2 separate regions of the Homo sapiens genome follow, and region 2 is linked to region 1. The links come from fine-mapping of genetic effects on gene expression. Tissue or cell type: whole blood. Region 1 holds a variant in brackets; the other region holds the start of a gene. All regions are shown on one strand. Distances are from middle to middle.

Evidence for each region. PIP is the estimated chance that this variant, and not a neighbour inherited with it, causes the effect.
Region 2: it holds the start of ANXA2R-OT1, and the variant in region 1 is fine-mapped to the expression of ANXA2R-OT1 in whole blood (INTERVAL, PIP above 0.99).

The regions. Positions count from the first base shown.
Region 1 is chr5:42,990,358-42,995,357 of GRCh38, reverse strand. It overlaps FLJ32255 (a long non-coding RNA gene), which reads left to right and starts at 2,025. Exons shown (of 2, transcript NR_104643.1): 1 at 2,025-4,519. It overlaps LOC105374746 (a long non-coding RNA gene), which reads right to left and starts at 3,083. Exons shown (of 3, transcript XR_007058755.1): 1 at 111-3,083. RefSeq lists enhancers at 1,857-2,151, 2,421-2,550, 2,851-3,060, 3,401-3,550. The variant G/A (reference allele first, on the strand shown) is at 2,540.
Region 2 is chr5:43,064,444-43,069,961 of GRCh38, reverse strand. ANXA2R-OT1 (ANXA2R overlapping transcript 1) reads left to right here and starts at 2,523. Exons shown (of 3, transcript NR_104651.1): 1 at 2,523-2,664; 2 at 2,805-2,875. It overlaps LOC100132356 (a long non-coding RNA gene), which reads left to right and starts at 2,991. Exons shown (of 1, transcript NR_034127.1): 1 at 2,991-4,775. It overlaps LOC100506639 (a long non-coding RNA gene), which reads right to left and starts at 2,939. Exons shown (of 3, transcript NR_102752.1): 1 at 2,176-2,939; 2 at 1,745-1,992. RefSeq lists an enhancer at 2,912-3,311.

The sequences.
Region 1 (5,000 bases):
GAAAACCGGTAAAATTCTAGAGAGCACATAGAAACAAAACAAATCGTAATTCCGACAGAAAAACAGCGAGAAAAGAAGTCGAAATGAAACGGATACTAAGCAAACCTTACAGAGAACGAGCGCTACAAAACGCAGGGATTAAAGAGTTCTTCAGGGGCCAAAAACCATCTGTGTCCGGGAAATGAGCATTGCTGCCACCGGAAAACTGTCCGCTAGGTCTCTGCACTGCTCTGGACCTCGCTAGCAAGAATCTGGCGGCGCTGAGACTCAGCAAGCGCCGGCACCTAGCGGATAGCGCTGGTATTGCCAAACAAATATCCGTTTAGGCGCCATAACGGTGCTGCTAGAAAGAAACTGCGGATTCTTAGGAGGGGTGCTTCCATCCCGAAACATACTGTCTGGAGGAATGGACCGACTCTGTTTAAATGTGTTGTGACGTTTTAATGTGTTTTAATCCGTTTAATGTGTTTAATCCGTTTAATGTGTTTTAACACGTTTTAATGTGTTGTGACAGGAAAAGAGCCGGCTAACGGTATTACGGAAGTACTAGTTGGCACAGAGGCTCGGTGCAATTACCGTTCTGCACCGTAAAACGGGTTTAGGAAGTTCCTAGGAGATACTAGCGGTGCCAGAACCGAGAAAGTGACGACACAGACAACTTATGGACTCCGCGTACGGGAAACGTTCCGTTGGGCGCTAAGAACGGTGCAGCAACTGAAAAACCGCTCAGTGGGCGCTACTGGCAAAAGCGTTGCTGCAAAACCGCCAGCTCCGCATTAGAAGCAGAGCCGCCAGACAGAACCCGGGACCTGAAACCACCGAAGCGGAGACCGAGCTTGGCTCCCCAGCTCCTGAGAGAATGCAAGTCAAGGAGTACGAAGCTGTGATACTCAAAATTAGTAGAAGAAAAATGAATAACATTTAAATAAGATAAAATTTTAAAATAATAAATTCTAAAATTCAAATAAAAAGGCAAAGCAAACACACTGGAAACTACCGGTAGCATTGTTCTCAGAGCAAAAGACACAAAAAGAGCATTTAAAAATAAGCAAAAATTAGAGAGAACCAACCCTACAAAGCAGAAATTACAAGTATTGCCAAAAGAAGCAATTCTGTGATTAGGATATCCCTGTTAGATCTAAACCGGTACATGTTACACCTAAGTCTACATTTCTTAGGACAAAAACAAAAACAAACAACAACAACAACAAGAAACCAACAAAACCCAGTCATGGTTAAACCTGTTTACGACTAAAAAATCGTAGTAGCTGATATATCCCGACTTGGTCCACAAGAGGAAAAAGTCGCGTTCGGCGGAAATTGCTATCGTCAAACCGAGCTTCGTAAACCAGAAATCGCTTTTGCCGGCATTTCCTGACTTCCATGGGAGTTTAAAAAACACCAACATAGCTAAGGCGGGACTTGATGTTGCGCAGCTAGCCTTGGTGTAAGAGCTCCCAGGCACTGCTAAACTGGTCATCGCTAAACCTAAATGAATCGCATTCGCTGGTACACAGATTTCTACAGGAGTTGAACATCTCCTGCGCAGCTAAAGCAAGCCGTACTAGTAGGAAGCCGGAACTTGCCACGACTTAGAAACTTGAGGCTTTGGGAGGCCAAGGCGGGTGGATCATCTGAGGTCGGGAGTTTGAGACCAGTCTGGCTAATGTGGCAAAACCCCGTCTCTACTAAAAATACAAAAATTAGCCGGGTGTGGTGGCGGGCGCCTATAATCCCAGCTATTTGGGAGGCTGAGGCAGGAGAATCACTTGAACCCGGGAGGTGGAGGTTGCAGTGAGCCGAGATCGCCGAGATGGCGCCACTGCATTCTAGCCTGGACGAAAGAAACTCTGTCTCAAAAAAAAAAAAAAAAAAAAAAAAAAAAAGAAAAAGAAAAAAGAAACTTGAGGCAGGGCTAACTCTGCGTTTGTTATGATTAGGCTACAGGAAACCCGGAGTTGCTGGGAAATGAGTCACAGGGTCACTCAGCCTTTCTGTGGCGAAACATCGACTTCCTACGACCTAGAAATCGCCGCCAGGGCTAGGCTGGTGTTTGTCCTAAGTGGGTACTTGCTTGGGTTGAGAAATCACATTTTGGCTATTCCCCGACTTGAACCAGGGGATAGAAATCGTAGTCACCGGCTGGGCGCAGCGGCTCATGCTGTAATCCTGGCAGTTTGGGAGGCCGAGGCGGGCAGATTATTGAGGTTAGGAGTTCGAGACCAGCCTGGTCAATATGATGAAACACCGCCTCTAGTAAAAATACAAAAATTATCCGGGCGTGGTGGCGAGCGCCTGTAATCCCAGCTACTCAGGAGGCTGAGGCAGTAGAATCCCTTGAACCTGGGGTGCGGAGGTTGCAGTGAGCCAAGATCGCGCCACTGCACTCCAGGCTGGGCGACACGGCGAGACTCTGTCTCAAAACAAAACAAAAGGAAAAGAAGAGAAAAGAAAAAGAAACGCAGGCACCCTGAAATCGAAACTTGTTAGGACCAACAAGCCAACGACAGACGAATCTGCGGGGTCCTGCGACAGACAC[G/A]CCAGCCCCGCCGCCACAGCACAGGGTTCTGGAGGTCGAGCTGTTCTGCGGGTTCTGCGGCGGCGCTGGGAAGAGACGGCGCCCGGGCAGCTCCCCTGTCACCGGCTTGGAGGAGCGGCGGGCTCCCCTAGCCCAGCGCCGCCGCCGCCGCCCGGGAACGCCAGGCTCACCCCAGCTGGGGAAGCTCCGAATCCCTCAGATCGGCGACCTGAGTGCTGTCGCCCCGAGAAAATGGAGGCATCGAGCAACGAGCTGTGCTGAGACCGAGAGACCTCAGTTCTGCGAAATGTCGGTGCCTGGAGCTTGCGAATGACTGCGGCCGGCGGGTTGTCAAGGACAACATTCCTTATGGCGCAACCAACAGCGCTGTCACCAAGAAACTGGACTCTGAGAAAAAAGAGGGTTTCGGCCACCGAGAAACTCCGTGCCACATGTGCCGTGACAGCAAAACCGCCCGCTCCGCGCCGCTGGTGAAAGAGCTAACGAACGCCAGGTGCTGCGACAGTGACACCGGGACTAGAAGGCCTCGGATGGAGAATGGGACGCCCAGAGCAAGCAGGAAAACGTTTTGTTTGGCTCAACTAGCGCTGTCGCAACCGGAAAACTGTCAGGCCAGTGCTGCTGCGGATGTGAGAAACCGGTGATCCGAAGGCGGAGTGGCGCTGGGCGCTGGACTCGCTGGTGTGAAAATCTGGCTGCTCTAGGACCCGGCAAGCGCGGGCACCAGGCGAACGCCAGCGACTTTGCCAGACAAATGCATGTCTTTTTTGGTCGCCATTCAAAGATGCAGCCGGCAGTCAGCCCCGGCTCTGAGAAACAAGTGGAGGTGTCAGCCATAAACCCTCCGTTCAGGGAAAAGAGAGTCGCTGCGACGGATCGACTGGCCGTTGGGTGGAACTTTCTTTGGTGGCCTAGTGACTAGAAAATAAAAACGAAAACGAAATAAAAAACTGCTACTGACATTACTCCCACGCTCCCTCCTCAAGTCAGTGGCTTCAGGCTTAAGAAAACCTGTATTTTTCTTGGCTGATCCGTGATCCCTAATTACTGAGGGCCCCGCGACCCACCAAGTGCGATTCGCAGAGGGAAAGGAGCTGGAATAAGGATCCAGAATGGGACGGATTTGGCTCCTCCAGGAAGAAAGCAAAACAAATGCAGGTCGCGAACACTTTACATTGCAGGAAGCTGCTCTTCCAGTGGCCGCGGCTGGGTCCTTCCACACCACCTCTCTGTCCTAGGCCTTCGTCCCGGTTCAGCCCTCACGGATTCTAGGCTAGCGGTCAACAACCGCATCCCTCCGGAACCTGGAAACTCTAGGTCCGAGATCTCGGTGAAGAATGAAAGGCACAGCGCCGCTCAACCCAGGCTTCAGGCCTGCCCCGCTGGTCCCGTCCCTTCCCTGTGGGATGGAACTCTGTGGGAATCGCTCCTTATTCTGATGGTTCACTCATTCAGATGTCCTTGATATTTGGGGATATTTCTAAAACAGCTGGGGAGAAAAATGGACTGCGAGGCTCCGGTGTTGGACGTGAAATTGGCAGTGAGACATCCGCCTCTAAGCCCAGGGAAAAGCTTAAATTGTGGTTCTCTGTCTCTAGCACCGTGATCTTTGAAATGCGTTATTGATTTTCTTCTTTCTTCTGGGAAATGCAATGCAGGTGAACTTGTAAGTGTTGAATCCTCCCTCTCCTCACTGTTCAATCAGACTGAGGCCTACTTCCTTTCTGATAAGAAATATGGAACTGCCATTGCTCAGTAGGAAAATGTCCTTTCTACAAGCATTCATATTTCAATAAAAATCTGCACTTTGTGAGTTGAGCCCCCTCAAAGAGACCTACAGACCCTGCCATGAGCATCTCCATCCACACTCATCATTTCCCATTTTCACCACTTCTGCTCCTGTGCAAACCAGTACTATCCTTTTCTGGGGGATCCTAGGCAGAAGCGATGGCAGGACAAAGGCAGAGAAGGCACTGCCAGGTAAGGAAATCTATTTTGCCCTTGCAATTCTGTCTCCCAAGGGATTTGCCTCAATATCTCCCTCCCACCATACCCCTTCTTCAGCTAGCCAAAACCTTCCCTGCTATTTGAGGCTCCTCCAATTGCCTCCTGGTCCTGTGGTTGCAAGAATAAAGGAAAAACTACACTGTTCTCACCCACATAGTTACAGACACTATGAAATAGAAGAGCAGTCTGGAGTCATTGCAAAGCAAAATACCTACCATCAGTTCTCTCTTCCTATTTCTTTTTTTTTTCTTTTGAGACAGAGTCTTGCTCTGTCACCAGGCTCGAGTGCAGTGGCGCGATCTCGGCTCAGTGCAACCTCTGCCTCCCGTGTTCAAGGATTCTCCTGCCTCAGCCTCCTGAGTAGCTGGGGCTACAGGAGCGTGCCACAACGCCCAGCTGATTTTTGTATTTTTAGTAGAGACGGGGTTTCACCATGTTGACCAGGATGGTCCCG
Region 2 (5,518 bases), 74 kb before region 1:
GGGTTCACGCCATTCTCCTGCCTCAGACTCCCGAGTAGCTGGGACTATAGGCACCCGCCACCACGCCTGGCTAATTTTTTGTATTTTTAGTAGAGACGGGGTTTCACCGTGTTAGCCAGGATTTGTATTTTTAGTAGAGATGGGGTTTCACCGTGTTAGCCAGGATGGTCTCAATCTCCTGACCTCATGATCCGCCCACCTTGGCCTCCCAAAGTGCTGGGATTACAGGTGTAAGCCACTGCGCCTGACCAGTCTTTTTTTTTTTTTGAATGTTTAAAAATGTTTCCATTTTGTGCCACCTTCCTTTAGTCAACAATAACCCAAGTTTTGTTATTATTAGTTTATTGGTTTAGCCAGATTTATCTTGATGAAATTTTACAAAAATATACTTTGCGGCTGGGCACTGTGACTCATGCCTGTAATTCCAGCACTTTGAGAGGCCGAAGCAGGTGGATCACTTGAGGTCAGGACTTTGAGACCAGCCTGGCCAACAGGGTGAAACCCTGTCTTTACTAAAAATACAAAAATTAGCCAGGTGTGATGGTATGCACCTGTAATCCTGGCTGCTTGGGAGCTGAGGCAGGAGAATAACTTGAACCTGGGAGGTGGATGTTGCAGTGAGCCGAGATCGTACCACTACACTCCAGCCTGGGGAACAGAGCGAGACTCCGTCTCAAAAAAAATGCTTTTCTTTATTCTTTGTTTCTTCTTCTATATGACAAACAATGAAAGAAAGTATTAAAGGCTGGGCATCATTTGTGGTTTGTGTCCCACAGTTTGCATTCCAGATTTGATCTGGTGCCTAGAACCTGCATACACTTAGCATTGCCACCCAGCACCCAACTCTACCACATCTGTATTAGTCTGTTCCCACACTGCTATGAAGAAATATCCAAGACTGGGTAATTTATAAAGAAAGAAGTTTTAATTGACTCAAAGCTCTGCATGGCTGGGGAGGCCTCAGGAAACTTACAATCGTGATGGAAGGCACCTCTTCAGAGGGCCGCAGGAGAATGTGTGCCAGCAGGGGAAAATGCCAGGCAATTATAAAACTATCAGATCTCGTGAGACCCACTCACTAACACGAGAACAGCATGGGGAAAACCAACCCCATGATTCAATTATCTCCACCTGGTCTCACCCTTGACACATGGGGATTATTACAATTCAAGGTGAGATTTGGGTGGGGACACGGAGCCAAACCATATCAGCATCTCTCCTGATTTTCCAAATGCAAATGTCTTATAGTCTCTTGCTGAGGAATATACAGTTGCCGACTTGCCCTTTCTCTGACCACCCCACACAAACACCATATTGGAATCAGACAGAATCTGAATGCCGGAACTAGAATGCCTCCTCCTTTAGGGAAGTAAGCTCCATAACTCCTGTCCACATTCCTAACCTGGAAGAGTGACCCCTTCCCTCCAGAGGTGCTGATCCCACCATTTTTGCTAAAATAGGAAGCTAGGGTGGAAACGGAGAGAGGAATGGTGGGTGAGATATTTTGTTTTTTCAAAGGCTCTGCACAGTATCTTCAATTAGATAAAGTGGCTGTAACTTTTCTTCTATTGACACTGCCCTCTTTCCTTTATTCTACTGCCTGCAAAAGAAGGCAACTGAAGAAGCCTCAAGTACCAGGGCAGGTTTTGGCTAGCTGAAGAAAGGGTAAGGTATAGGGGGGAAGACTGGAGGTGACCATCTTGGGAGTGGGTGAGAAGTGAGAGCCCAAAATGGGTCTTCTTACCTCTCTGGTACATTCTGTGCTCTTCTCTGGTCTGACATCCGCCCAGGTTCATCCAGAAAAAGATGGAAATGATTTGAACAGGATAAGCTAGGGTGAGGATTAGACACGATGAGTTCAGCTGGAGACACTCATGGTAGAGTCTGGAGGTCTCTTTGGGGGATCACTTCCAAAAGTGCAGATTTTTAGAAAAACGAGAAAGGTTCTGGAAAGGGATGTTTTCCTTCTGCTCAATGGCAGTTTCAGGTTTCCTGTAAGAAAGGAGTTTGTAGCGTCAGTATATTTGACAAATGTGGGAGAGGGAAGATTCAAGAGCTTGAAATTGCATTGCACTTCCCAAAGATGGAGAAGACATCAGGGATGAATTTCAAAGGTGATAGAAATCGGGAACTGCCCTTTGAGGATTTCAAGGGGAGAGGGAGCAAAGGCCTCACCATCAATCCACACGTCCTGTGCTAGAGTCTTGCGATTCTTATTTCCCCTACCCTCCTGCAACGATTATTCCCATATATCAAGGCCATCTGACAGAGTTAACCATCAGAATTAAATAGCAGTTCCCACAGAGTTCCATCCCCTGGAGAGGTACCTAGCTGCCGGGGCAGGCCTGAAGCCTCGGTCAGGAGGCATTGAGTCTTTCACTCTCCACGGAGGTCTTGGACTGAGAACTTCAAGTTCCAAAGGGATGAGGTGTCGGCTTCGCCCTTAGGAGCCTGGAGGGCTCTGACCAAGGAGAAGGGCGGAGCCCAGCCACTGGAAGGTTTGTTTCTTGCAGTGGAAGACGGTTGGCGACCCGGATGGCTTTTGTTACCAGGGCCAGCCCAATCCGCCCGATTCTCGGTCCCTATACTGCCTCCTTTTCCCATGCGCATCGCAAGGGATCGGTTGATGGGGCCCTCAGTATGACTTCGCTAGGAAAAATAAAGGTCTTCTTAGGCGGGAGGGGACTGATTTGAGGACGGAGGGTGGGAGTAGTGCCAGCAGCACTTTGTCGTAGTGGCACTGGGTGGGCAGTTATCAGTTGCAGTCCGCTCGTTTCTCAGTGCCCACGGTTTCTCACTGACAGTGCAGCTCGTTTCTCAGAGCCGGCGGATGTTCATGGGCAGCACCATCGAGCCAGAAGCAGTATTTGTCCTGGTAAGTCATTTCTCAACTGCCGAAGTGTACTAGGTTCCAGTCCCGCTGGTTTCTCGAATCTGCTAGTCCCACACGAGCACCAATAGGTAAACCCAGCCGGCAGTTTCCGGCTAGCACTTTCGCTATTTGAAGACATTAGGAAGTTATGTGGTGGCTCCGTACCCTCCTTTCTCCATCCGAGGCCGGGGTCCTAAAGTCGGTGTCACGGTGGCAGCACCCAGCGTTTTGTTGGCTCTTTCGCCAGCAGCGCCGAGCGGGGGGTTTTCTGTCACAGCACTTGTTGCACCGAATTTCTCGGTCGCAGAACCTCTCTTTTCCGAGGGTCGACATTTTCTGCGTGACAACACCGTTGGTTCCGCCAAAATGGATGTTGTCCTTGGGAACTCCTCCGGCTGGCGTCACTCTTAGGGTCCCAGCACCGCCATTTCGCCAAGCCGAGTTCTCTTGGTCGCGGCACATCTTGTTCCTCGGTGCCTCCATTTTCTCGGTGGCGGCAGCGCTCTGGTAGCCGATCTGAGGGATTTGGAATCGCAGCCAGTTGCGCAGAGTCTGGGGTTCCCGGGCGACGCCGGCGCTGGGCGGGGGAGCCCGCCGCTCCTCCGAGCCAGAGGCAGAGGAGCTGCGCGGACGCCGTCTCTTCACAGCGCCGCGAGCGCCGACGCACGGGTTCCTGCTCGGCCTCCTGAACCCAGTCCCCCGGCGGCGCCGCTGGCGTCTCTATCGCAGGCCCCTGCGGTTTCGCCCGTCGTTGGCTTCTTGGTCCTAGCAAGTTTCGATTTCGCGGTGCCCGCTATTTCTACCTCTTGTCCAAATAACTAGCCAAAATGTGATTTCTCAGCCTAAGCAAGTCCCGATTTAGGGCATCGGTCTAGCCCTGGCTGCGATTTCTTGGTCCTAGGAAGTCACTGTTTAGCTGTAGCAAGGCAGACTTAACCGTGCGATGGTGACTTTTCTTTTTCTTTGGTTCTTTTTCTTTTCTCTTTCTTTCTTGATACGGGGTCCGGCTCTGTCGCCCAGGCTGGAGTGCAGTGCCGCGATCTCGGCTCACTGCAACCTCCGCCTCCCGGGCTGAAGCGATCCTCCCACCCCAGCCTCCGGGGTAGCTGGGACCACAGGCACGCGCCACCACGCCCGGGTAATTTTTTGTATCCTTCCTAGAGACAGGATTTCGCCATGTTGCCTGGGCTGGTCTCAAACTCCTGATTTCTTAGTCTGACCAAGTCAGAGTTTAGTTATTTCTTACCGTAGCAAGTTGAGAGTTATTCCAGTTTGCGATTTCTGGTTGTAACAATTCTGGCTTTAACCATGCCTACATAATTTTAGTAGTAGCAAATTCCTGTTCCGTAATAGGAGCCCCCATTATAGCCATGCGTGCGGTTTATAACTCCTGTATTAATCTAGGTACTGAAGAATGCAATTTAAAAAAATTTAGCAGTGTCTGGAATTTTTAAATCATACCAAGTTAGAATTCGCAATAGTCTCGCCCTGGCTATGCTGGCGATTTTTCACTCATGTAGAAGTTGGGGTACGTCGGCTACAGATAATTGTTGGTGTCGCAAATACCGGTTTAACCATGGCTGTTTCTTCTTAATCCGAGGAAACTTCGGATAGGCGCAAGAGGCACGGGTTTAGTGCTGACAAATATAATGGTAGGATCTCACCATTCGACCCTGTTTGCAATTTCTTTCTGTTTGTAGGATGCTTTGTATGTTTTGTATACTCAAAAAAAAAAATTTTTTTTTGGTGTATCTTGTTCTGGCAGCGAGGTTATCAGTGTATTTTGTTTTAATTTCTATTTGCTTTTAAATTTTTAATTATTTTTTAATTTAAATGTTACGGTATTTTTTTCTTACCCACTGTCTTCCCCGGTAGAATAAATGTGGCGTATTTCTTCTACTGATTTTCAGTGTCACGTCTCAGGTTCTTTCTAACTTGCCTTCTCCCGTGAGCACTGAAGGCGAGCTAGTTCCCCGCCGCTAGGGTTCTCTTCCGCGGCTCTGCTCTTACGCCGAGCCAGCGGTTTCGCATCCGCACTTTCGCCACTAGGGGCGACTCCGTGTTTTCTCGGTTGCCGCGCTCTTGGTAGCGCTGAACAAAACAACATTCCTTGTTCACAAGACTCACATGTTCTTTGTGGTATCGCTTCCTGTGTCCTAGCACGGCTACTTTCCCCGGGCTGGCTGTCTCACTGTCTCAGCACCGTGATTGGGCAAGACTGCTGGCAGGGCTTGGCCTCGGTTTTTCTGTCACAGGCGTATTTCACTGGGTAGGCGCTTTCTCGGTGGAAGCACCCTACAACCTTCCAACCACCGATATTTCTCAGAGACGAGTTTCTTAGTAGCAATGCCTTAACTGCGCCAAAAATAAAGTTTGCCACAGGACACACCGCTATTCAGTGTGACACTTGATATTGATGCAGGATTTTGGCTCCTCAGCTCAGCTAAGTCCAGGTTGTTGTTGTTGTTGTTGTTTGGAGACGGAGTCTCGCTCTGTCGCCCAGGCTGGAGTGCAATGGCGCCATCACTGCTCACTGCAGCCTCCGCCTCTCAGGTTCAAGCGATTCTCCTGTCTCAGCTTCCTGAGTAGCTGGGATTACAGGCACACGCCACCACTGCCACCTAATTTTTGTATTTTTCGTAGAGA